Linked DNA regions of Homo sapiens. The protein of the gene in region 3 purifies or fractionates together with the protein of the main gene of each other region. This does not show direct contact. Each region holds a gene or a part of one and is shown on either strand. Other genes may lie near its edges. The genes, in order: ZNF644, MTCL1, ZNF223 and PPM1G.

Region 1 (7,029 bases), on a different chromosome or scaffold from region 3:
CCTTGCTTCTCCCTGATACTGGTGGGTGCTGGCATTCCTGGCTATGGCCCATGTCCTTCCAGTCTACGAAAGCAGCATTTTCAGTTCTCTCTGCCATGTCTTCTTCTTCTTCCTCTTTTTTGGAGACAGAGTCTTGCTCTGTTGCCTAGGCTGGATGCAGCGACGTGATCTTGGCTCATTGCAACCTCCGCTTCCTGAGTTCAAGCAAGATTATCCTGCCTCAGCCTCCTGAGTAGTTGGGACTACGGGCGCGTGCCACCACGCCCAGCTAACTTTTGTATTTTTAGTAGAGACGGGGTTTCACCATGTTGGCCAGGCTGGTTTCGAACTCCTGACCTCAGGTGATCTGCCCACCTTGGCCTCCCAAAGTGCTGGGATTACAGGTGTGAGCCACTGTGCCCGGCCTCTCCGCTTGTCTTCTCATTGCCTTCAGTGTGTGTCTCGTTCTTATAAGGATACATGTGATTGCACTGTGGTCCACCCAGATAATTCGGAATAATCCTCCCTCTCAAGATCCTTAATTTAATCATATCTACAAAGACTTCTTCTTTTTTTTTTTTTTTTTTTTGCCATATGAGGTAACATTGTCAGATTTCAGGGATCAGGGTGTGGAAGTCTTTTGTGGGGCAATAGTTCAGCTTATCCCACTCAGTCGTTTATAATAGACTTTTAATGTTCTTACTTTTATTTTATAGTTTAGTTTTTAACAGGCCCCCATGTCCACTTCTGGGTTGGTGGGAGATGATGGCATTGGGTGGCAGAGAAAATATCTCATCTTTTCTAGATACGATGCAGAAAATTCTAGGTCTGTGGTTCTAGGAAGGACAAATCAGAGATGATAGTTTGGAAATAAAACAGTTAAAGTAACCTAGCTTGAGAACAGAGGTAGGTGTGGTGGTGCTATTTTTTAAAGAATAGAGAATTTAGAAGAGTCACAAGCTAGTTTCAGGTATGGGGAGGAGGAGATATGTAGAGTGTGGGACATACTGAGTTTTCAGAAGTTCTGAAATATGGTAAAATTAGTAATGGTGGATATATTTTTGGCAAATGCATGTTCAGTGGATTGTTGGTGTAGAAGTCACTTTATACTAGATTAAAGATTAAATTGAAGATGGGGAGTATTGATACATTCTATTCTCTAGAATAATGATGCTTGGCATTTAGTAAGTAATCAGTGTTGGCTATTATGATAATTACTGTGGTTGCTCTAACAAATTACTTTGTTATATACTTTTATGTGTATATACTTTTATGTGTTCCAATACTATAACATTTTTGTCTTCAGCTGTTTGGTGTGTGTCTTGATATGTACATAATATTAAATAAATACTGATCTAGAAAGATGTGTGTTTTAGTAATTATTTTAATTATTGCCATTGCCATACTATTAAAATTAATGAAAACAATTTAGAATTTTTTTTAAAAAAAAGAATTAGTTTCAATTTCTCATTTGAATAGATTATTATTTCTCAAAAAAAGCAGTGAGGTTGGGGGGCACTTAGCAATAGTTTCCTAAAGATTAAAATGATGGTATTCTGGTTGAATGGTTTTTTTATGTTATATCAAGAAATATAATTTGGTTTGTGTTTTTTCATTTAAAATAATAGTGTATTGTAGCTATGGTTATTCATGCCTGAAACAAAAAATTAAACCTTGGTCATTGTGTGTATTTCTTTCAGGTTTGATTTAATTTTGGATGAGATCGTTCTTGCAGCAAGATGTTAATAAGACAAAATCTAGGTAAGTAGAAGACTGCTTTGTTAAATGTACATATCAAGGTAGGAATAATACAAAAAAATTATGTCTTAAAAATGTGGTGTTGAGTTCAGAACCAAAGAGTTTTTAAATAAAATTTTGAAATGCAAATAATTGACTTTTTGACACACTTGGTCCAGTTGATTTGATGGGAGTAAAATTATAACTATCACATTGTGGAACTAAATTTTTAGTTTCCTTCTTTTGTGTTGAGGTTAACTAAAGCATTCAAGTTTCCAGTGAATATTCTAAAATGTTAGAAAATCAAGTTAATGTTTGGTTCAGCCACTCTTATTGAACTCTGACCACTTCAGTAAGACATTTATTGTGTCACTTCATTGTTCTCTCCTTTGTTGATAAAGTATATGAATAGTCATTGCTTTTGTGAATTTTGCTTCATTTTTAATGTTAAGGAAGCACTTTCCCAAATGGGATAAATTTGCCAAATTGTGATTTCTTTCTGTTAATATAGTATTCAAAATTGTAAATTATTGTTTTAATGTTTTCCTAGTGGGTGTCTCTACTGAATGACCTCTCTAATATAGCATTCTGATTAGCTTTCTAAGGCTGTTCACTTTTAAAAAATTGAATTGGCATCATGTACTTTGGTATGTGAAAGAATGCTTTTTAATAATATAAGCCGTTGACATGTTTTAAAAAGATACATTTACTATTTATTGGTAAGTGAATATGGCTTCAAAATGGAAACAAGGGAAAAAGAACATTGAAAAAATTGGAGTTAACTTGGTTTTCCCTCTAACCAGATGTTTCAGCTGTCAAAAATTTGCTGATCTCAATGTTTGTTAAAGAAAAAAAAAGTCTAGGATGAAAAGTGCTGTAGTTCAGTAATATGCACTGAAGGAAATCTCAGTCAGTGGTTTGGGCATGTTTTGAAGCAAAATTTTGCTTTTATTGCTATTATATAATAATAACAGTAGTGGTAGTTTGAAGAGTACTTATTGTGCTCTAAATTCTGTTAAGTGCTTGTCATACCTTATTGATCGTTATAGTACCTCCTCTTGTTGTGTAGAAAAATTTTATTTTTTGCTTTATAGTGGGCTGTTTTTCTTTAGGAATAATAATTTACTTCTGTAGCATTTATTAGAAATAACACTTGCCTATGTATCTTCTTAAAGTGGAGAAGAAGCCATTCTTTTGTACTTGAAGGTCTTATTAGGGTTTGTTTTCTAGTTGAATATACAGTGTCTGTTAAAACTTTTGTTCTGATTTTCTATGTTTGATATTGCTTGTGGGATGACACTGGTTTAACTTATTCTGACCTTATTTTTCACCATGCTTATATATGTAGTTTTTTCTTTTTTATTATGGTATAGTTTACATATATATGGTAACATAAAATTTGAGGTATAGAGCTGAATGACTTTTCACATACACATTCATATGTGTAACCACCATCTAGATCAAGATATAGAACATTTCATTACTTTGGAAAGTTCCTTGTGCTTTCCCCGCTTCCAGTCTAATAGCCTTTTCCCCTGAAGTAATCATCTTTCTGAATTCTGTCAGCATAATTTAGTTTTGCCTGTTCTTGGATTTTATATATAGTATGTACTCTTGTATGTGGCTTTTTCATTCAACATAATGTTCTTGAGCTTCATCTATGTTGTGACTATGTCAGCAGTTCATTATTTTTTATTGCTGTTTTATTTTTAGTAATATTCCATTGTATGAACACACTACAAAGTATTTATGTTTTCTCAGTGATTTGGTTTATTGGATTCTCCATATCTCTGTTCCTACTTGCTAACTTTTTTATACTCTTTTCCTTCTTCTACCTGTCTCTTTAATTGTCCCCCATCACTTTCAGAATAAAATGTAGTAAACCTTATAACACGGCATGCAGTTATCTCACCGTAGCTATGCCAGAATGCTGAGGATTATATGAATAAACTAAGTATGATGTTTCATATTCCTAGTTCTAGTCCTAGGTACATGTTGTCACTTTCCCTCAATCCCATGCCTCCCCAGTTGCCAGAGACCTCTTTGCTAGTTGTCAGCTTATCTTCTGAAATAGCCTATCTGAAGCATCATCTGATCCTTTAAGCCATGCCTGGCCGTAGTTTGTCTTCTTTATTAGAGTATGAGTTTGAAGGTAGATACCATCCATGTCTCGTTTATCTTAGCACAGTGCTGGGAATACTGTGTGCATTCAGTAAATGTTTTGTTAAACATTGACCAATGAAAAGAGTTCTCCCAGGCAAATAGAGATTCAGAATGCTAGCTGGAATGGGATGGGGGCATTGGCACTTGAGTTGCTGTTGGGCCATAGGAAGGAGCCACTGAGGATAATCCACAGACAGCATTATAGACATTTTAGAAAGAGAAATAAAATATTTCCCAAGTCTTCATTCAATCCAGTTGAAATACAGTGGCTAGTAAAATATTCTTAATTCAGACCTAAAGTAAGACTGTCATTGTTGATTTTGATTAGTATTTCCAAGTGGAGGTATTAATCCATGTTGCAGAAATTTGAAGTGTTTGCTATGAAGAGTATTTTCTTTGTGGGTTTGTACTAGTTATTTCTTTAAAGATTTTGGAATGTTAGACTAATACAAGTAGAAGATTGGGAACACTAGTCACACGTGTAAGAAGTGAAGAAAACTTTTCCTTATTTCTCTGAAGGTAAAAAACTGTTAGGATGGAGGAAGAAATTGTAGAATCATAGCCTGGAACTGTGATAACATTTTTGATTCCCACAGCTTAGGAAGCTTGCTATTTGTTTAAAGGTACTTAAATTTTTTTAAATTGTAGATATGTAATGTAGCATATATAAACTATATACTTTTTTTGTTTTGTTTTTGAGATGGAGTTTCGCTCTTGTTGCCCAGGTGGGAATGCAATGGCACAGTCTCAGCTCACTGCAACCTCTGCCTCCCAGGTTCAAGCAATTCTCCTGCCTCAGCCTCCCAAGTAGCTGGGATTACAGGCATGCGACACCACACCCAGCTAAATTTGTATTTTTTAAGTAGAGATGGGGTTTCACTATGTTCGTCAGGCTAGTCTCGAACTCCTGACCTCAGGTGACCCACCCTCCTTAGCCTTCCGAAGTGCTGGGATTACAGGTGTGAGCCACTGCACCTGGCCTAAACAATATACTCTCTTAAGAAATAACACACTTCTTAAATTTTAAAGCATTTTGACTAGTGGTTCTTTTTTTTTCTGTGTTTGAAATTTGGCTAGTTGGGTTGGCTATAGTAATCATCTGGAGATTTTTATGCCTGAAGCTTGATTGCCCTCTAGCAAGTCCAAAGCAAGAAGAGGTTCTTCCCCACAGGGATCAATTTGTTGCTTTTCCTTTCTGCAGCTTCTGCCATAATGTTTGAACACAGAGTTAGACGTTGACATTTTCTCATGCTGTTCCTTCTGTCTTCCCACAAGGGTTTTCTTAGACATAGATTCTTACCGTATATAGACCTTGGTTCTTTTTTTTTTTTTTTAAATCCTGATTGTGAAGTGTGTTTAGTCATGTTGTTGGTTAGAGTTGAGGAGCCAGAGAAATTTAACCTTGAGATTGCCTAACTTACATGTCTCCACAAAGACTTTAGACTAATTTTTCTTCTCAGAGGCTGCTAGCTGTACCTCCGTTGCAGAGTCTTCGTCTTCATTTTGTGCTTCAATATTTAACATAGGCAGCTGCTGCTAAGACTGCAGAATCCCCGAATCCAAGGATTTGAAATTCTTTATGGATATTTGTCTTAGATTAATTTCTCTAATTTCTAACTTAACCTCTCTGTACTTCAGTTTCTTTAGTAGCATTGTAGATGTGCTGCCCTTTGTTGTAGCATGAAAAAGAAGACTTTTTAATTAATAAAATTCTTTGTCCTTCATTCTAGATGAGATTGTACAACGTACATTGACCCTTTCCAGCTGTATTGCCAAGTAACAGTTAGTATTTAGTATTTCACTTTTTTTTTTTTTTTTAAGACAAAGTTTTGCTCTTGTTGCCCAGGCTGGAGTGCAATGGCACTATTTTGGCTCCCTGCAACCTCCGCCTCCTGAGTTCATGCGTTTCTCCTGCCTCAGCCTCCTGAGTAGCTGGGACTATAGGTGCATGCCACCACACCTGGCTAATTTTAGTATTTTTAGTAGAGATGGGGTTTCACTGTGTTGGCCACGCTGGTCTCAAACTCCTGACCTCAGGCGATCCACCGGCCTCAGCCTCCCAAAGTGCTGGGATGATAGGCGTGAGCCACTGCACCTGGCCACATTTAGTATTTTCAAAATATAAATTTTTTATAAAAGTCACATGTGACCTTATGAGCAAATAGTACAGCAATGTTTAAAGTAAAAAGTAAAACTCTTCTCTCCCACCCAGCACTATACTCCCCATAAGTTACCAAAAATAGCTGGTATGTATTCTACATCTTTTTCTTTCTGCTTATCAATATATTTTGGACATTTTTCCATATATTTACCACATTTATTATAACTGTTACCTTATTAATATTTAGGTAAGTCTCAGGATTTTTTGCCTGTATATAAGTACTGCTGCAATAAATATTTTTGATGGTATTAACGGGAGTGTGTGAGAGTGTCAGGATAATTTGTAGCAGTAGATTGCTGGATCAAGGATATGTGCCCTTTAACTTCTGATGTAATAAAACTGCAATGAGGTTGTACCACTTAATACTCTTATTGCTAGTTTATGAGAATATCTGTTTTCCCACATTCTGCTAAATATTTGTTTTATCCTTGCTAGTCTAATTGGTGGAAAGTGGTATTTATTTTACTGGGCATTTTTTAAATTGTGAGAGTGCTCAAAGGTTTGAAATATCACCTTCATTACAACTTAAGTTCTGTTGGAGAATATATGTGAAGATTTTTATTTTTTACTGTTAAGTCCATCAGTTCCATCAATTAACATACCTTTGTGTTTTAGGTATTACAGTCAAAGTTATTTAATATTGAATAATCAGATTATTTGCCTTTTTTTCCCTTCATACTATTTTTTTAGGATAAATATTTCCTTATGGTAAATTTCTTTATAGTTTGCTACAAACTAACATCAGCATAGCCTGTAAATAAAAAGAAAATAAAAGCCATTACTAAATATTAGGTTCATTAAGTCTAGATTGATAGCAGACTGCTTAAAATCTGATGTCTTTTACAACGCAATCATTAGAATACTTTGCTTCTTTGTGGTTATTTTTTACTATCCTTATTATGTATGATAAGCTACAGTTGTTAGTCTTAATTCCAGCTTTAATGTGAGTGAACTCCTTTTTTTTTTTAAGTATTTAATTCTAGAAAACT
Region 2 (7,908 bases), on a different chromosome or scaffold from region 3:
AAATAATAATAATAATAATAATAATAATAATAATAATAATAATACAGCTTTCTGGGCTCATATCTCTTAAATCAGATCCCTGGGGATGTGGCCAGATAATTTGCATTTTTAACAGTCTCACCAGGAGATTTTAATGACCTCAAGGTTTAAGAGCCTCTTAAGTTATTGTCATTGTCACCACCAATGCCATGCACAGCTGCCAATCTGGACATGAAGCCTTTTTCAGGTCCCATGTGGCATTTTGGCAATCACCCTTGCAAAGAGAGCTGGGAGGTCCCCACAGACCCCAGTGTTGGATGCAGACTCCAGCTTCAACCTTGGCGGGTGGTGGGGAGGCGGGGGGATCAGGCATTATTAGGTTGTCTCTTTTTAAGGTTAACTTTCTTGCAGTGCCCAAAAAGCCACTCACTCTGAAAAATTCCCTCTTCTTTCCATTCTTTTCAAAGAGTATGATTTCATGATTTCTCATGACTTCAACCAGGAATGCTTTCATATTTTAAATGTGCCTTTCTGTTAAAATAAGGGGAAAAACTGGAAGATACACATATGCCTGGGTTTGGACAATGTATTAAAGGTATAGAAATTCTGCATATAATTCTGCCTGGGAGTATAGAGTGAAGTATAGTCCTGAGTAAGTCACATTTTTTTTTTTGTCTATGAGTCAAACCAAGTAAAAAAAGAATTCATTTCTCTTTATATAACTGTATAGACACAGAATAGATTTCTAACTCTCTGAGTGAGAGTTTGGAATCTGAGTGAAAAATCTGGTTTGCTCATATTTTAAGAGTTTTGAAGATTATTTCACTGGTGTTAAATAATGATGATGATTCTGAAGATTATTTCACTGGTGTTAAATGATGATGATGACTTGATAACAATACCTTACCCAAGGCCACACAGACAGCAAATGACTTGGGCAGGATTTGAACCCAGATTTACCTGGTGTCAAAGCCTCAGGTCTTGTCACCATACCACACCGTTCTTGGACAAAGAGGTTGTGAACACAGCCACACAAACATTACTCATCACACCACTGCTGCACGCAGCTCCCTAGGACAGTATTTGGGCCTCTGCAGAGGAATGAGACGATGGGGCCCTGGGCCTTGTGCCAGCATTTACAATCCAGGGTTGCAATGCAGGGAATCAGCCACAGTGAAGCAACCCGGAGATCTGCAAGCACAGGAAGGCACCACCACCCTTGATACGAGGCAGTGGAGGACGAAAAGCTACCAGGAGGAGTAGTCCATCCAGTGATGGCTGGAACCTCAGAAATCCACTCCTCACAGAGACCCAGCCACTGCCAGAGAAGCCGCCTGCAGCAGAGAGAGTAAGAAATAACCTGGTTTCTTCCTTCTGGGTCCACTCCCATCTCCTGACGGCACCTCCACTGGCCAAACCCAATCAGCAAACCCAGCGGCCTGGAAACCCACACTTCCACTCACATCAGAGTAGCAGAGGGGCAAGACTGGATCTGAGGGCACGCAGATGAAAACAGGCACGCCCATGCTGGGTTTTGTTATTTCACAGAATAAGCACTCTATGGTTCCCTTAAATAGTAAATCCTCTATTACCTTTAGATTAATTTGATTTAACAGAAAAAGAATTTAAAATCAAGTATTTCCTTTCTTTGCTCCCTCCTTCCCTTCCTCCCTTCCCTTCCCTTCTTTCCCTCCCTCCCTCCCTGCCTCCTTCCCTCCCTTCCTTCCTTCCCATTTTTTTGAGACAGGGTTTCACTCCCATCACCCAGGCTGGAGTGCAGTGGCATGATCATGGCTCACTGCAACCTCCCCTCCTGGGCTTGAGGGAGCCTCCTGCCTCAGCCTCTCAAGTAGCTGGAACTACAGGTGTATGCCACCATGCCCAGCTTATTTTTGTATTTTTGTGTTTTTTTGGTAGAGACAGGATTTTGCCATGTTGCCCAGGCTGATCTCCAACTCCTGAGCTCAAGCTATCTGCCCACCTTGGCCTCCCAAAATGCTGGGATTACAGGCGTGAGCCACCACGCCTGGACCACTTTTTCTTTTTCTTTTCTTTTCTTTTTTTTTTTGAGTGACTTTAAAAAACATCTATTATGCAATCAGATATCTCTTTATACCTGTAACTCACTGAATACTGGAAAACAAAGAAGGCATTATTGGCTGGGCTGGGTGGTGCATGCCTGTAGTCCCAGCTACTTGGGAGGCTGAGGTGGGAAGATGGCTTAAGCCCAGGAAGTTTGACTTCAGTCTGGGCAACATAGCAAGACCCCATCTCTTAAAAAAAAAAAGGAAGAAAAAAGAAAAAAAAAGAGAAAGCATTGATTGAATACTTCCTTACAAAGGGCTAGTAGTCTCATTTGCCAGGCTAATAATAAGTAGTAAGGAGGATGAATTTTATCTGACTTATTACCTGAAAGAAAGAGAAGCTGGCTGCAAATCCTATAGTCATCAAGCTACTGTCTTTAGAAGACTAGCGTATTGAAACTTTTTTGGGGGGCCCTTTCTTTGAGTGTATATGGTATGAGAAGCTGGCAAGCTTGTGCTGAGAGTCCTGGCCATAATTCTTCGGAAATGTGAGGGTGTGGGAGGCTTCAGAGCCTCTGGAGGAAGTTCTAGGCAGAGGTCAGTTGTGCTCTGGCCCGACCGCGGGCCCCCTCCCACGGAAGGGCAGAGCTAGAGGGCCCTCTGGGGACAGCAGGCCCGGCGCGAGCGGTGGCCAACACCTCTCAAGCCTTTCGAGGTGTGCCGTCATCCACGCCCACCGTGGAGCCAACAGTGTCCTTCTCCCAACGCTGGAGAAACGGCTAGGGCATTAGCCTCAAAGGAGATTAAGGAATTGGATTTCGTAGAGATTGGATTTCGTGCGTGCTGTCTCCCATTCAGAGGCATTCCCAGAAAAACGACTCACAAAGACCACAACAGCAGCAGAGCAGGCGAGGTCTCAGTGCCCCCAGAGCTCAGCCAGGGCGAGGCAGGACGACTTCGGGGCAGGGCTCTCCTGACGTAGGGATTACAACAAAAGGGTTCATCCTGCATTTTTTGAAGGAGATGGCTAAGTAGGGTAAATCTGTGGTTAAGATCACAGACTTTGGAGTCGATTTTTTCCTCCTATTTTTGCGAGTCGGCCCCCTCTTCTCTGTCCCTGCTCCCAAGGCCCCCTCACCGCGCATACTGCCACAGCCGCTCGCAGCTCCCGTGGCCCACCTCCCTCTCCTCCAGGTTGCTGCCCCCGGGGTCTTTTTGAGCACATCAGATCATCTTGCTCAGAATACCCCGTGGCTACCGCCTCTAGGATAATGCCCAACGGCCTTGGTAGGATATTTGGTGCCACACACCCTCCAGTCTCCCCTCTAATCCCTAACCTACCTGCCTCCCCGCCCAGGGGCCCTGCTCTCTGCAGGCTCTACTGTGTCCTGGGCCCTCAGCTGAGAGACCAACCCGTCCTTCCAGGAAAATGCGAGCCTCACCAGGCAGGGTTATGCTCCCGCCCTCCTCCTTGTAATTATTACCTGACCCTCTGCCTCCTGCAACGCCAGGGCTGGAGGACAGGCTGGCCCCTATTCCTATGGGCACTGGCCAACATCCAACGCCTGGGACATAAACTGCACCCAATGGTATGTGAACTGTACTTTACAGTTTGCACGGTGTGTTCTGGTATTTGCTAAATCTTCACACATGCTCAGGTGGCAGTACGTTTTAATGATACAGGCGAGGGAACTGGGGCTCAGAAAGGTCTAGTGCCTTGCGCATGGGAGACTCAAGTGGTAGAACCGGTGGCCGGGCTCCGGGCTCTGAGCGGAAAGCCTGCAGGACTCGGAATCCTGAAGACCTGGGTTTAAACCCGCTCAGCTAGGGACTGGGTGAGGCATCGCAGGCAAGTGACTTCACCTCCCAGCGCCGGTGCCCTAGTCTTCACCGAAGACAGCAATTCCAATCTGGGACTGTGGTGAGGCTTAAATAAAACACTGCTCAGTAAGTGGCCAGCAGGCCTGGCTCGCAGCCGGAACTATAAATGTGAGTTCCCTTTCTGACCCCCAGGTTTGGCGAGGGCTCCTCCTGTTTGGGCAGCAGCTCCTCCTGAGCTCCCGAGGCCACGGGGGTGCCAACTGTGGAGCGCCCGCCGTGCCGTTTAGACGCGAGAGCTGCGTCGGGTACCAGCGATCCTTAAAGGAGCTCGGGGACCAGGGGCACAGCTTGGAGAGGACAGCGAGGGAGGTGACTGGCCTCGGGGAGGCGGGCGGTGGATGGAGAGGCATGAGAGGGGTGTTGTCAGCCGCGGCACACGCCTTCCCCAAGTGGCCGGCGCCGCCCCTTGCCACCACTTCACCTCCGCCTCTTCCCTTCCTCCCTAGCTCCTGGCAGCGTCTCTAGGGCCTCAAAAAGCAAGGAGGGTCCCCGGGCAGCGAGGCCCCATGGATCCAGCCTGCGCCTGCTCCCAAGGGCGCGCAGGTCCCGCCCCTGCCGGGCGCCCGCCCCCCGGGGAGCGCAAGCCCCCGCCCCTTCCCTCGCCCCTCCCCTGCACGGCGCCGGCTGGCTGGAGGCGGGGCATGCGCACGGGCCTGGGCGAGGGCGCTGGGCGGCGGGGAGGTGGGGCGCGCGCGTGCGGCTTCTCTCAGCCGGGAGCGGCGGGGGCGGGCACGGGCAGCAGCGGGCCGGCGGTGGGCGGGGAGCGGGACGCGGGAGCCGGGCGCGCGCCGCCAGCGCCGCCGCGGCACCGGTGACCGCGAGCCCGGAGCGCGAGGTCCGGGGATGCGAGCGGCCGGGAGCCGCCGCGCTGCTGAGCCGGGAGAACTCGATCCGCGGTGACCTCAGCGAGGGGCGAGCGCGGCGGCGGCGAGCCCCGCGGGAATCCTCGGGGCCGGGGTGCGGGGGGCGGGGACGGCGGGAGCGCGGGGCGCAGCCCGGGCGGGGCTGGGACAGTGATGAGAGAGCGCGCGGGGAGGCTGCACGCCGCCGCCGCCGCCGCCGCCGCCGTCGTCGTCCGGAGCATCTGCTGCCTGAGCTGCTGCCGGCGGACCCGGCCATGGAGACACTGAACGGCCCCGCGGGCGGAGGTGCCCCGGACGCGAAGCTGCAGCCGCCCGGCCAGCACCACCGCCACCACCACCTCCACCCGGTGGCCGAAAGGCGGCGGCTGCACCGTGCGCCCTCGCCCGCCAGACCCTTCCTCAAGGACCTGCACGCCCGGCCCGCCGCGCCCGGCCCGGCCGTCCCCTCCTCGGGCCGAGCCCCGGCTCCCGCCGCCCCGCGCTCGCCCAACCTCGCGGGCAAAGCGCCGCCCTCGCCGGGGTCCCTGGCCGCGCCCGGCCGCCTCTCTCGGCGCAGTGGCGGCGTCCCGGGCGCGAAGGACAAGCCCCCGCCGGGCGCCGGGGCCAGAGCGGCGGGCGGTGCCAAGGCTGCCCTGGGAAGCAGGAGGGCGGCGCGCGTGGCGCCCGCGGAGCCGCTGTCCCGGGCTGGGAAGCCTCCCGGAGCCGAGCCGCCGTCTGCCGCTGCCAAGGGCCGCAAAGCCAAGCGCGGCTCCCGGGCGCCACCCGCCCGCACCGTCGGCCCCCCGACCCCGGCCGCCCGGATCCCTGCCGTGACCCTCGCGGTGACCTCGGTGGCCGGGTCCCCGGCCCGCTGCTCGCGCATCAGCCACACGGACAGCAGCTCCGACCTCTCTGACTGCCCCTCCGAACCCCTGTCCGACGAGCAGCGCCTGCTCCCTGCCGCCAGCAGCGACGCCGAATCCGGCACGGGCTCCAGCGACCGTGAACCCCCACGAGGAGCGCCGACGCCGAGCCCCGCAGCCCGAGGAGCGCCGCCGGGCAGCCCCGAGCCCCCAGCGCTCCTCGCCGCGCCCCTCGCCGCGGGCGCCTGTCCCGGGGGCCGGAGCATCCCGAGCGGGGTTTCGGGGGGTTTCGCGGGGCCCGGCGTGGCGGAGGATGTCCGGGGGCGCTCGCCACCGGAGCGACCAGTCCCCGGGACCCCCAAGGAGCCCAGCCTGGGCGAGCAGTCTCGGCTCGTGCCAGCGGCGGAGGAAGAAGAGCTGCTGCGGGAGATGGAGGAGCTGCGCTCGGAGAACGACTATCTCAAGGTGAGCCGCGCCTCGGCCGCAGGTGTCCCGGGGCGCCCCCGGAGGGCCTGGCTGCGGCGGGGACCCGCCAACCCCTCCTTCCCGGGCCTGTCCAGCGCCTTCTCCCTCCTGCTCTCCACGGTCCTACCCCCGCATTGTCAGGCATTGGCAACTTAAGCCCAAACTTCTGGAAGGAGAAGCAAGACCTGTGGGACCCCGCCAGTTCGCAACCCACTTCTCTTTTCTCGCGTCTAGAACTCTTGCGTCTCTTCGCTGATACTTTTACTTTTGTTGACCTGTTGGGGCAGAGGAGGCTGTAATCGTTTTGGGGACATCAGCGGACGCCCCCATCCCCGCTCAGAACGTGCCAGCCTCACCTGTAGGAACAGGTGATCCTTCGCCAGGGAGCTCTAGCCGGGCCACGTGCGGGCGTGGCGGTTCAGGATAATGCCACTGGAGGGCCCCCGGCTACGGACCCGCTTGCCCCTTCTCCTGCAATTACGGAAAGAGCTGGGGGCTCTCAGGGTCTCCTGGGCTCCGACATCCCGGGTAGAGGGGGCCGCGCCGTTTTCGGTGAGCAAGCTGAAGCTCAGTAGAGGTCCTTGGAGTGTGGCCCGGGTTGAGGAGCAACGGTGTTGCGCGGGCCAGTCCTTTGTAAGCATCCAGGAGCCGGCTTTCTGTGTCAGGAGAGGCCACGCCAGCACTTTCTAAGGAATCGCGGCGCCTGCTGCACTCTCTGAGTATTTTCCGGCAGGGCCTGCGGGCAGTGGCGTCTTAGTCGCCTTAGCACTGGGTGCTTAATCCGGCTCCATCTTTTCTCCACGGAGGGGGCCTGGTGCTGCAGACGGGGTTCCCGGGGTCAGGACGATCCAGGTGACTTGAGAGAAAATAAGGGGAGTTGTATTGACACCAACTGTTTTATTTATTGTGATCTTCAGGTTAGTAAACAACTCCAGTGGCATCAATCTGTGTATCTGTTAAGTCTTAATGAGCAGCCAACCAAACCCAGGGGTGTGGCCCTGCTTCTTCAGTGGGTTATGTGATTTGAGCTGTTTTCTCAGCAAATGATGAGCTAACCAATACGGGCCCAGTTTTTGGCTAGTGAGATTGAGGATTGGGCTTTAAGGTGCATGGTGGTGAAGTCTGCAGTTCACACGGAAATCAGAGCACATTAACTGCTGGGTGATCTCAAGCCTAAATTTCTTATGGAGCTGCTCCAACCAACTGAGCCTTGTGGTTATTTTACTTTGTGCAAGAAGTAACAGTGAGGCAGAGAAAGAGAGGTGATAAAAGAAAGATTGGGACTTAAAGCAAGATATTTCAGATAGTATGTTTGTTTTTGTCACTTACTCTTAGGTAATAGACAACGGAGTGAAGTTCAAAGGCAACTATGTTGTGGGTGACTCCATCATGAAAGCAGCTCTTTTGTAAATCTTCAACAAATGTAAGCTCCCTGAGGGTGACCAAGATAATCTTGTTGTTTTTGTATCCCTGGCTCTTAGCATAACCCCTGACTTACTTTCTGATTGAATGATGTTTATCCAAATGACTGCTGTGCAAGGGAAAACTGTATTTCTTTAAAGAAGTTTCTCATTGCATCTTTGATCTTAAGGTAGGCTATCCATCATTTTGAAGTTCATTCTTGGTGCAACTGGTTATTTCCTTTATTTTTTCCCAATGAATGAAATGTGTCTGAGCCTGGAGTCTGATACAGTGTATTTGCTATTTCACTGGATCTTCCCAACAACATAGGGTGGTGGTGGTGGTATCATGATCATAACTAGTATTTCACAGACGGAGATGCTGAGAACCTAAAACAGAAATGACTTGGCCAAGGTCATAGAGTGAGTAAGAGGTGGCACCTGCGTTTCCCCA
Region 3 (7,029 bases):
GCTAATTGACAATATGAGTCCTTGTTGGTGGGTGACATCCCTGGCCACCCTTTCATGTCTCTTTTTCTGTCTTCATGGCACTTTCCAGGCACAATTCTGCTTTCCCTGGAACTGTGTCATTCAGGACTCTGCAAATTCCCTAAAGTAGGAGGAAAAATGACCATGTCCAAGGTAAGTAGGACTTGCCTCTCTTACTGTTAAAATTCCATCTCACTACTCAGATTGTTGTGTGTTTTTCTCTGCCCTGGGAAGACTCAAGGAGAACAGCAGGACTTTGAGGATCTCTTGTCACCTGGCTAATTTTTGTAGTATTAGTGGAGATGGGGTTTCATCATGTTGGCCAGGCTTGTATCGAACTTCTGACCTCAAGTGATCTGCCCGCCTCGGCCTCCCAAAGTGCTGGGATTATAGGCGTGAGCCACCGCACCCAGCCAGAAAGCCTTCATTTAAAATGGCTAGTAATACTGGGCTGGGTGCAGTGGCTCACACTGGTAATCCCAGCACTTTGGGAGGCTGAGGCAGGCGGATCACCTGAGGTCAGGAGTTCGAGACCAGTCTGACCAACATGGAGAAACCCCATCTCTACTAAAAATACAAAATTAACTGGGCATGGTGGTACATGCCTGTAATCCCAGCTACTCGGTAGGCTGAAGCACGAGAATCACTTCAAACCGGGAGGCGGAGGTTGCAGTGAGCTGAGATTGGGCCATTGCACTCCAGCCTGGGCAACAAGAGTGAAACTCTGTCTCAAAAAAGAAAACAAAACAAAAAAAGTCTAGTAATACTGAAGATTGGCCAGTCACTTGTGTACTGTCACTCATTTACTTCTCAAAGCAGCAGAATGAGGAGGTTCCTGATCTCTTCTCCTAAACTCATGAAATATGAGAAACCTGCTCAAAATCAGAGGCAATCAAGGAACAGGAATGTTAGCCATTCTGCTCAAGTGAAAGAGAGAGACGAGAAGAAAGAAAAATTCTCCACTGAGGGTCTGGTGACCTGTTGTGTGGATGTCTGGAGTGCTCCCTTGAGTGATGACATCCATAGGTGGCGCTGCTTCTCCCTGTCCTGCGTTGGTGTGACCTCTTCTTTTCCAGACCTGGCACCTACTCAGGTGTACTCATTGTTCCAAGTACCCAAGGACAGTGATTACCACAGCTGTTCTTATCTCCAAATTCCTCCTTATGGCACAAGATACCTCACACATTTTTTCTTTGGCTGGGCGCGGTGGCTCACACCTGTAATCCCAGCACTTTTTCGGAGGCTGAGGCAGGTGGATCACTAGGTCAGGAGATAGAGACCATCCTGGCTAATATGGTGAAACCCCGTCTGTACTAAAAATACAAAAAAAAAAAAAAAAAAAAAATTAGCCGGGCGTGGTGCGGGCGCCTGTAGTCCCAGCTACTCGGCAGGCTGAGGCAGGAGAATGGCGTGAACCCAGGAGGCGGAGCTTGCAGTGAGCCGAGATCGCGCCACTGCACTCCAGCCTGAGTGACAGAGTGAGACTCTGTCTCAAAAAAAAAAAAAAAATCCCTAAATTCCTCCTTATGGCATAAAATGCCTCACCATTTTTTTTTTTTTTTTTTTTTTTTTTGAGATAGAGTCTCTCTCTGTTGCCTAGGCTGGAGTACAGTGTTGCGATCTCAGCTCACTGCCAGCTCTGCCTCCCGGGTTTACGCCGTTCTCCTGCCTCAGCCTCCCGAGTAGCTGGGACTACAGGCGCCCGCCACCACACACCCGGCTAATTTTTTTGTGTGTTTTTAGTAGAGACGGGGTTTCACCGTGTTAGCCAGGATGGTCTCGATCTGACCTCATGATCTGCCTGCCTCGGCCTCCCAAAGTGCTGGGATTACAAGCGTGAACCACCGTGCCCGGCCCGCCTCACACATTGTTACCAGAAAAAATGACAACCTGGGGCAAAAATATTTACCCCTTGGATAGTTAAGGAAGAATAAATCCAGAATAAGAATCTTCTAAAAGGATAAAGAAAAAAGTTCAAACAGATTGGAACAAAGAATACTAAAAGGCAATTGTAAAAGAAGAAATAGAGATCGCCAATAATCTTGAAAAGTGGTGATACTCATTTATAATAATAAGTGAGAATGATAGAATGAATTGTTCTTCCTAATCAGATTACAAAACCATGGGAATATTTATAAACTGCTCTTGGCTATCATAAGGAGAATTAGGGTACTTGTATTCTGTTGAATGATTAGAGAGGTAGGGAAAAAAGTGAGAAGAAAGTATGCAATTATATAATGATAATATTAAATGTGCTTATTTTTCACATTTTAATTTTCATATGAAATTATTTTAAATGAGACAGAGTCAGATGTTCTTACATCTTACTACTTACCATATCATCTTGGCCGGACTGATAATGGAAAATATGTGAAATTAAATATTTATTATTTAGTGTAGCTAAAAATAGATCATCAGTTCCCTGGAATACTATGGAACCCTGAAATAGATAATGGTAATAACAGTAATAAGTAATACCAGCTAATGTTCATTAAACAGTCTGTGCCGTAGACTTTTCAAAATACCGTATATTTCTTTTCTTAATTCTTGAAAAAACTCTTGTCATGTAAGAACTATTATTCAGAGAGGGAACAAGCCTTGTAGGAAAACATGTCTGAGGTCACATGGTTAGAAATGGGCAGACTCTCAGAATGTGCACTGAGGCATTCTGGCTTCTGATCAGGACACTAAATGCTGCAATAAGCATATGTGGTTTGTGCCTTGCGAGTACAGAAGACACACTGCATAACTGTCTCAGGGTACCATGGAGCAGGTTCACTGTGCACTGATTACCAACTCGTGTGAGTCCTGTGGGACAGAACACATTCACACGCAACAGATTGCATGAAGCAGATTTATTACTACAGATTGGCAGCAGGCGAGCCCAGAAGCCTAGGGTCCAGTATGAGCTGGCCATCCAGGGCTCAAGAAAGCTACCTGGAGCAGATGGAATCTTGACTGTATGTGCCCCACTTGCACCAGAGCTGAGGCACCCCAGAAGGTAACCTGCCCCCATTTATATACTTCAGGGTGCCATGACTCATGGAGAAAAACTTGAAGGTCATCTTCCTTCCAGGTGAGAGAGGAACAAAGCCCAGACTGTCAAAGGCAGTTCCTCCCCATAATATTGCATTCTTAGAATAATCTACAGTTATTCTTGAGAACTACAAGCAATAAAGGGGAGAGAGCTGGGTGGGGTCTGCACCCCAACTGTCCTGCAGTCCATCCCCTGACCCAGATATCCCTCTTAGCAAACTGGTCCATTTCATATGTCCATCGACCTCCCCTGGCCTCCCCTGATCTTGTTAGATCAGTGTAACACCTTGACTGACACAATCTCTGCCAACTTCATGGAATTATAGCTGGAATACATTCCGTGGACCCCAGAGGAGCATGACCACAAGCAGCACAGCCAGACCTTCCTGAAGTAGTAATCCTGCCCAGGTCCCAGTTATCAAAATAAGAAGCTGCTGAAGATACCAAAGAAGAATCATTCAGGTGGCCCCAGTGTCTGAAGCCAGTGGACCTGCTTCTGGGTTGCCTCTCATTGAGTTTTTACAATAGCTATGTATCCAGAGAAGGCCGGAGGTGTTGGCAGTTGCAGACCCACTCCTCCCAGTAGGGCTAAAAGCACAGAGCACTTGTGTTTTTTGAACCTTCCTGAGGGAGTGAAGGGATGTTGCTGGGCTCCCAAGGCAGTGGCCGTGGAATAAACAGTATCTATCGGCCATTGCCTATGGCAGGTGTCTCATCATTTTTCATGGGAATTCACTTGTAGGTGTAGGACATAAATCTGGAGCTAGCTGCACCTCCAGGCAGGTCCCCAGTCAGCCTGGGGCACAGCTTTAGCCTTCTTGCCCAGTGGTGCATCTCGCTTCCAGGGTGACATCTAGGGGCACCCCCAGCATGCCTAATGTTTGGGATCTAACAGTCTGCCAGCTTTCCAGGCATGACATTGCCCACCCTGTATCTGGGTCACCCTCCAAACCAACCACAGAGAAAGCCATAAGGCTCAGGTGCACACAGCACCCATTCCCTTGTTTGGGTGTTCTGTGACCCATTTGTGGGAATGGGGACATTATCTTTTGCCAGCCACATCTCATTTTTGGCACAGTTGCATAAGGTCAGTTCCCCCAGTATGACATTCATGCGGCCCTTACAGAGAGGAATACCACTCATCCAGTCCTGGTTTTCATTATGTGGAACATTTCTCATCCAGGTAATCAAAGGAACATGGTGCGAGAAAGCACAGTCCACTGTAGCTTTGTTGAGGTTGTGTGATTCTGCTGCCTTACACCAGTTACCACAGGGCCCTCCAGCTCTCTCTCATGTGGCAGGTGCCAGGTTCTGACGTGACAAGCCAGGGTTATGGAGCTGTTGGTGTGCACTGTGGCATGAAGGATGCTGGTGTGGTTTACCATAGTCAGGATGAGAGGGTCACTGTGGTTGGTGATAGAATAAATGCAGGGTAGCAGATGGAACACTTAGCCAGGTGACATGAGGTGACTGCAGCTTGAGATAAGGAATGTGCTGTGCTTCCAGGCCTCTGCTGCCATATCCTTGGGGGAACAGCAGATTAATAGCTGTTGGATAGTGGGTGGGCTGAGGTGGTGCAGCGACCCAGTCTGTCTGTCCCTGTCCTGAGGCTACTACCATTGTAGACATCCATTCCCCTGGTTGTTTGGCTCAGACCTTCCTGCCTCAGTTGTTCAGTCAGGAAGGGACGTCACGTCCTATACAAAAAATGCCTGCTAGTGCCAGCCACCCAAATGGGATCAGGTGTCCCCAGTACCATCAGAAGGACCCTGGTGACCCCTATGGTATTCCGTGGTCTCATTCTTCACCACTGTGGGATCCCATAGAAGTCAGGGGATGTTCAGGAAAGCATCACCTCCAGATTAGAGTCAGGAGGACCTTTGTCAGTTACCGCGGTGATCTGAACCGCAAATTACCAACAGGATGTGCATTATAAAGGGGAAAAGGAAAAATAATTATTGGGAATACTGAGATTGGGGTTTCACAGCCACAGCCTCATCAACCGGCTGCCAGGTCGGGCAGATACTGACTGAATTGCTCACTGTCGCTGGGACTATTAGCAAGGTTCATTGAAACCTATATACGTGTAGCCCAGTATGCAGCATTTAGACTCCTAGGGGGCTACATACAAGTAAACTCAATGAGTTCACTAAATAAGACCACAAGACTTCTTTGTCGTTGGACTTCTGATGACGCTTGGGACAATCAAGGTGTGTCATTGTCAGGACACAGACTAGAATGAATGGGAATTCTATAAGTTGACCTACATCTCTGAAGATCCTGAAAAACTTTCCATTTTTCCTCTTGGCCTCCTCAATGTTCCTTCTCTCCCAGTAACCATTGGTAGTGAGATTGAGGTTGCATATGTTTGATGCTGTAGGAGGCAGTGACCTTCAAGGATGTGGCAGTGGTCTTCACTGAGGAGGAGCTGGGGCTGCTGGACCTTGCCCAGAGGAAGCTGTATCGAGATGTGATGCTGGAGAACTTCAGGAACCTGCTGTCAGTGGGTGAGGACAGGCATCTTCTATAAGGGAATGTCAGGCCCCAGGAGTGGTTTTGTATCCTAGGGTGTTCAAGTTTGAGTGTGCAGTGGGAACCTAAATTTCCAATAAGTGTTACCGTGATATTATCTAGAATATGTTGGGATTAAGCATGTGACTTTTCCTGTTTACAGGGCATCAACCATTCCACCGAGATACTTTCCACTTTCTAAGGGAGGAAAAGTTTTGGATGATGGATATAGCAACCCAAAGGGAAGGGAATTCAGGTAAGAAGCACGCAACTGTGTGTCCTTGTTTGTGACTTCCATCTGTTTTACTTCTGTGCACGTCCAACTCCATTACCTTCTTCTAAATGGCCAAACATCTTTGCTGGATTATGATAACCTCCTTCCAGCTAGTGGCCCTGCTCCGTGCCTTCCCACTCTGACATCTGTTCTCCTCATGGCAGCTAAAGTGATCCTTAGGACATGGATGTCAGATTGTCATTCCTCAGCTTAAGAGCCTTTCTGTCTTCTTAATTTTATGAAAGCCTCTTTAAGTTGCTTCTAGAAACCCCTGTGGTCTACTCTTCATTTTTCACTGCTTCTTGACTACATCTCCCATACTCTCCCTCATTCTCCATCTTTTCTGGCCACCTTGTCATCCCTCTTATTTCTCCATCCTGCCAAGGACACTGTATCACCTGTTGCTGGTACCCAATGACCACGAACTTAGATGATTAAATAAGAAGCATTTATTATTTCTCTGTTCTTTAGGCCTGAAGTCTGACACATCTCACTGGGAAAAAATCAAGCTGTCTTAGGGCTTTGTTCCTTTCTGGATGTTCATGGGGAGAAGGCTTCACTTTGTTTTACCAGTCCCTAGACACTGTCCACACTCCGTGGCTCTAGTTTCCATTCCTCCATCTTTGAAGGCAGCTACATTGCATCCTTGACCATTCTTCCAGAGTCATGCTCCCTCTGCCACTCTTCTTATGCCTATGTCTTTCACCTTTCAGGTCCCTTGTGGTTGTATTCATCACTCCTGTATGATCCAAGTTGACTTTCCTACTTTCTGCTTAGCTGATTAGTGACTTCAATGACATCTGCAGCCTTAATCTGCCTTGCTGTGTAATGTGTCAGAATCATAGGTCCTGAAGGCTGGATGTGGACATCTTTCAGGAACAATTATGTTCCCTACCACAGAAGCTTCTGCCTCAGGGCCCTCACTTGCTTTTCTCTCTGACTGGAGTCCTCTGTTCCCACAAAACTTACTGACCCCCTCTGTTAGTTTATGCAGGTGTCTGCTGAGTTTTAATGTCATGGAAGAGGTCATCTTCAAGCACCCTATTGAAAATACCATCCTATCTTTACTTGGCCTGCAAGTATTATGTGTCATATGCTTTTGTTTACTGATAGATCACCTGTTCCCTTTCAAATATAATCTCTACAAGGTGTTTATCTGTTTGTTTATGACTGCATCTTCAGTGCCTAGA
Region 4 (4,922 bases), on a different chromosome or scaffold from region 3:
ATGATGTTCTCCTGCATTGTATGTGGTTATGAAAAGGAGGGAGAGAATTATCTTCGTTGAGTGGCATCTGAGCTGTAAGCATTGTATATACATTATCTTTTGTCATTGTGATGGGGTCTTCCTGGTTCCTGCTAGTATTTATGTGCTTTTTTTTCCCCTCAAGACTGGAGCAGTTATTAGCCCCAATAGCCAATCATTAAGCCTAAATCCTAATTCACAGTAGCATTGTGGGCTTCCTGGATCCTCAGCCAGAATAGGGTTTTTACAACTTAACAATAAAAAATGAGACGTCAGAGGGGAAGTATAGTAACTAGTGTTGTTTTGATTAAGAAGGGGATGAAACACAAAAACCAAAAGAAGTCTGTGGAGGAGGAGGAGCTAGGGCATGTTCTTCTGAGACTTGAGCGAGAGGAACCTTGGGAGTGGGAGGTTGTGGGGAAGTTAGAGGCTGCAAGGGCTGTTGAGGTAGTGAGAGGGACGGATCCCATGAGGAGTCTGGCATGGGGGCTCTGATTTAGCCTCTTCCCTGCAGTGGACAATGAGGAGGCTGCACTGCTGCATGAAGAGGCTACCATGACTATTGAAGAGCTGCTGACACGCTACGGGCAGAACTGTCACAAGGGCCCTCCCCACAGCAAATCTGGAGGTGGGACAGGCGAGGAACCAGGGTCCCAGGGCCTCAATGGGGAGGCAGGACCTGAGGACTCAACTAGGGAAACTCCTTCACAAGAAAATGGCCCCACAGCCAAGGCCTACACAGGCTTTTCCTCCAACTCGGAACGTGGGACTGAGGCAGGCCAAGTTGGTGAGCCTGGCATTCCCACTGGTGAGGCTGGGCCTTCCTGCTCTTCAGCCTCTGACAAGCTGCCTCGAGTTGCTAAGTCCAAGTTCTTTGAGGACAGTGAGGATGAGTCAGATGAGGCGGAGGAAGAAGAGGAAGACAGTGAGGTAAGGGCCTGTGAGGGCAGGCAGATGCTGAAGTTGCAGAGAGGTCCTGTTTGGTTGCCGTCTGTAGTTTTCAACTCTCTTTCCTTCTCCTATTTTGACATCATCCCCCAAGACCCACTGTATTCTAAGCTTTAGTCTTGAATTCATTGAGCTCCATCATCACAGGTACCATTTGCCTTTTTACCTCTTCCTTTGTTGGTACTATAACAAGCAGATCTAGTTCTGGCTTTTCAGAGTCTGTCTCCTAGAGAGAGAACAAGGAGATAGTTGTTACCTTGGCTAGTTGACTGTTTTCTTCTCTGGAAAATTTATTTTCTGGCCACAGTGCCTGAAAGATATTTTTGGCTGGCAGCCCTTGCCTTGTCCTGGGCTTTTTGCTAGTGACTGCTAAGCCCAGTTCAGGATGTCAGTTGTACTCATGCTAGCCCTTTCCATCCCCCCAATTTTCATGACCATATACTTGTATCTTTCAGTGTTTTGAGGACCTGTGTTCAGTCAGGACCTCTTGATTCTGAGTATGAGCTGTGGGGAGGGAGGGGATCATCCCAGTCTCAGCAGTCTGGGATCCTCCCCCTGGCAGGAATGCAGCGAGGAAGAGGATGGCTACAGCAGTGAGGAGGCAGAGAATGAGGAAGATGAGGATGACACCGAGGAGGCTGAAGAGGACGATGAAGAAGAAGAAGAAGAGATGATGGTGCCAGGGATGGAAGGCAAAGAGGAGGTGTGTGGGGAAGGGGAGCAATGAGTCTTGAAAAGCCACAAGGCAGGTGTGAATCCCCTAATTTTGATTTTGAGACAGGGGATCCCCCTGATACTTTAGGATGGAAGTAATAGTCATGGGGATTTATTCTGCAAGGGGAATGAGATGGTAAGCCTTTGGGGTTGAATTATCTAAAAACAAGGGAGAGGGAGTGTGCTGCTGTCTCTAGAAAGATGAAATGTGTGCTTCTCCTGTTTGTTAAAGCTCTTTTGGGGGTCCCAGTGAAAGCAAGCATAGGTGAACGATCAGGAGCACATCAGTGAGGAACGCATGTTCAGAAGCCCCCATGATGCTCCTTTTCTTCCTCTTAAGCCTGGCTCTGACAGTGGTACAACAGCGGTGGTGGCCCTGATACGAGGGAAGCAGTTGATTGTAGCCAACGCAGGAGACTCTCGCTGTGTGGTATCTGAGGCTGGCAAAGCTTTAGACATGTCCTATGATCACAAACCAGAGGATGAAGTAGAACTAGCACGCATCAAGAATGCTGGTGGCAAGGTCACCATGGATGGGCGAGTCAACGGGGGCCTCAACCTCTCCAGAGCCATTGGTAAGGGCCAAGAAACTGGGAAAGACTTCTAGGGTCTTTCTCTCTGTCCCAGACTACCTAGTAGCAAACTTTAATCTTCCTAGTGCTTGTGCCTTTCAAAGCACTTTAATATCTACTACCTCTGTTCTTATATTTCTGTGAAATAACTAAGATGGGTAGAGGTATCATTATACATAGGTATCATTATACCCATCTTATGTAACATTTGAATGATGAAAAAGACCTGTGAGTGCCGGGCGTGGTGGCTCACGCCTGTAATCCCAGCACTTTGGGAGGCTGAGGCTGGTGGATCGCCTGAGGTCAGGAGTTCGAGGCCAGCCTGGCCAACATGGTGAAACCCCATCTCTACTAAAAAAAAAAAAAAATACAAAAATTAGCTGGGCATGGTAGTGCAAGCCTGTAATCCCAGCTACTCAGGAGGCTGAGGCAGGAGAACCGCTTGAATCCGGGAGGCGGAGGTTGTAGTGAGCCGAGATCGTGCCATTACACTCCAGCCTGGGCTACAAGAGTGAAACTCCGTCTCAAAAAAAAAAAAACAAAAAAGACTTAAAATAAAAAGACCAGTGAGTGACTTTCTTAAGGTTCAGCAGTCTGGTGGCAGGGTTGAAACTAGAAAAACTAGGACTTAGGACTCAGTTCCCCATTCCACTAGATTATGGAACTTTGTAAAGAAGGGAAATGAATGGCAAGGTTTGACCTGCCACAAACACAAGTCTGTGGGAAGTATCCAAACTGCTCATCAACCATTCCTTTACTCCAGGGGACCACTTCTATAAGAGAAACAAGAACCTGCCACCTGAGGAACAGATGATTTCAGCCCTTCCTGACATCAAGGTGCTGACTCTCACTGACGACCATGAATTCATGGTCATTGCCTGTGATGGCATCTGGTGAGCACTGGCAGAATGCCCTAAATTCCCCTTTCTGCAGCATGTCTTCTCTTATAGGACTCAGGGCACCTCTAGGATTAGAGCCTAGGCAGACCTAGGCCTCTTGGTGGGTGAAGAGCACCCAGACTAAGGCAGAGCTGAGAATTTCTGTAGTTATTTACACTGGCCTGGGCCACCACCTCTGTCCATACTCCTCTACGCTGCCTTAGTGAGACTGGAAGATTCTGACTGTTGTTCTTGACCCCAGGAATGTGATGAGCAGCCAGGAAGTTGTAGATTTCATTCAATCAAAGATCAGCCAGCGTGATGAAAATGGGGAGCTTCGGTTATTGTCATCCATTGTGGAAGAGGTGAGTACCAGGGTGGAGAAGAGAGGGTGTCTGGTCTGCACAGCCAGGGTTCACTCTTTTAATCTGAGCTAAGTCGGCAATCTGGGAGCATTATCAGTAATTGCTGACAGACGCTAAACCCCGACTCCAAAGTTCCACCTTCTGTCATTTCCCTGACTTAGCCTTATGCCTTATGGACTAGCAGGTGGGCCGTTGTGTGATACCTCTTGCCCATTCCTCTCCTACCACCCTGACTCAGCAAGCCAGCCCTCTTGTGGGACTGTAGATTCCTGGCAAGGTGTTCAAACCCTGTGGCTGAGCTACCCCCATCCCTTTCTTAGCTGCTGGATCAGTGCCTGGCACCAGACACTTCTGGGGATGGTACAGGGTGTGACAACATGACCTGCATCATCATTTGCTTCAAGCCCCGAAACACAGCAGAGCTCCAGCCAGAGAGTGGCAAGCGAAAACTAGAGGAGGTGCTCTCTACTGAGGGGGCTGAAGAAAATGGCAACAGCGACAAGAAGAAGAAGGCCAAGCGAGACTAGCAGTCATCCAGACCCCTGCCCACCTAGACTGTTTTCTGAGCCCTCCGGACCTGAGACTGAGTTTTGTCTTTTTCCTTTAGCCTTAGCAGTGGGTATGAGGTGTGCAGGGGGAGCTGGGTGGCTTCACTCCGCCCATTCCAAAGAGGGCTCTCCCTCCACACTGCAGCCGGGAGCCTCTGCTGTCCTTCCCAGCCGCCTCTGCTCCTCGGGCTCATCACCGGTTCTGTGCCTGTGCTCTGTTGTGTTGGAGGGAAGGACTGGCGGTTCTGGTTTTTACTCTGTGAACTTTATTTAAGGACATTCTTTTTTATTGGCGGCTCCATGGCCCTCGGCCGCTTGCACCCGCTCTCTGTTGTACACTTTCAATCAACACTTTTTCAGACTAAAGGCCAAAACCTAATCGTACGCATCGTGTCCTTTTTTTTCTGCTGCCGTGGCCCCCGACTTGGTCCCATCTGTAGCATGTGGCGAGCCCCCATGTGAGTGTGTGCGTGTGCTCGTGTGTGTCCTGCGCGTGTATAGGAGAGCCCAGAGCGAGCTGCTGGTAGGCCGGCCTGGCGGGCGTCGCGGCTGCCCCTCGCCCCCTCCTGCAGCCAGAAATGATCTAGTTCCCCCAGGGACAGGTTGGGACCGGTCTGGCTGGCCTGAAGCCTGGAGTCGGGCAGGACGCCTCCTGCGCTGCTCCCTGGCCGGCTCCCCGCTGCCGCTGATTGGCTTGCTCCCCGCCTCGTCACAATCACTTCCCGGTCACGCCATTGAGGCTCCCGCCGCGGCCGCTTCCCACGGACTACGCGTCCCGTGCGTCTCTGCGGCGGCGGAAGCGGAAGCGAGTACGGAGGTACCAGCTGGTCTCCGTAGGGGGGTAGGGGGCTCCATGAATGGAAGCGGCGGCGGCGGCGG

What was found.
Region 1: the proteins of ZNF223 (region 3) and ZNF644 purify together in Homo sapiens (affinity purification with mass spectrometry; 2 studies listed by BioGRID and IntAct, with this or other methods). This does not show direct contact.
Region 2: the proteins of ZNF223 (region 3) and MTCL1 purify together in Homo sapiens (affinity purification with mass spectrometry; 2 studies listed by BioGRID and IntAct, with this or other methods). This does not show direct contact.
Region 4: the proteins of ZNF223 (region 3) and PPM1G purify together in Homo sapiens (co-immunoprecipitation; 2 studies listed by BioGRID and IntAct, with this or other methods). This does not show direct contact.

The regions. Positions count from the first base shown.
Region 1 is NC_000001.11:90,977,021-90,984,049, reverse strand, and holds part of ZNF644 (zinc finger protein 644), read left to right. Parts: intron 1-1,679; 5' UTR 1,680-1,696; coding exon 1,697-1,740; intron 1,741-7,029.
Region 2 is NC_000018.10:8,700,660-8,708,567, forward strand, and holds the start of MTCL1 (microtubule cross-linking factor 1), read left to right. Parts: upstream 1-4,896; 5' UTR 4,897-5,001; coding exon 5,002-6,054; intron 6,055-6,098; exon of another isoform or gene 6,099-6,480; coding exon of another isoform or gene 6,481-6,606; exon of another isoform or gene 6,607-7,477; intron 7,478-7,908. UniProt on the Homo sapiens protein: Microtubule-associated factor involved in the late phase of epithelial polarization and microtubule dynamics regulation.
Region 3 is NC_000019.10:44,055,021-44,062,049, forward strand, and holds part of ZNF223 (zinc finger protein 223), read left to right. Parts: intron 1-88; 5' UTR 89-156; coding exon 157-171; intron 172-5,434; coding exon 5,435-5,561; intron 5,562-5,728; coding exon 5,729-5,821; intron 5,822-7,029. UniProt on the Homo sapiens protein: May be involved in transcriptional regulation.
Region 4 is NC_000002.12:27,380,699-27,385,620, reverse strand, and holds the end of PPM1G (protein phosphatase 1G), read left to right. Parts: intron 1-532; coding exon 533-948; intron 949-1,528; coding exon 1,529-1,669; intron 1,670-2,020; coding exon 2,021-2,255; intron 2,256-3,015; coding exon 3,016-3,145; intron 3,146-3,392; coding exon 3,393-3,495; intron 3,496-3,815; coding exon 3,816-4,022; 3' UTR 4,023-4,422; downstream 4,423-4,922.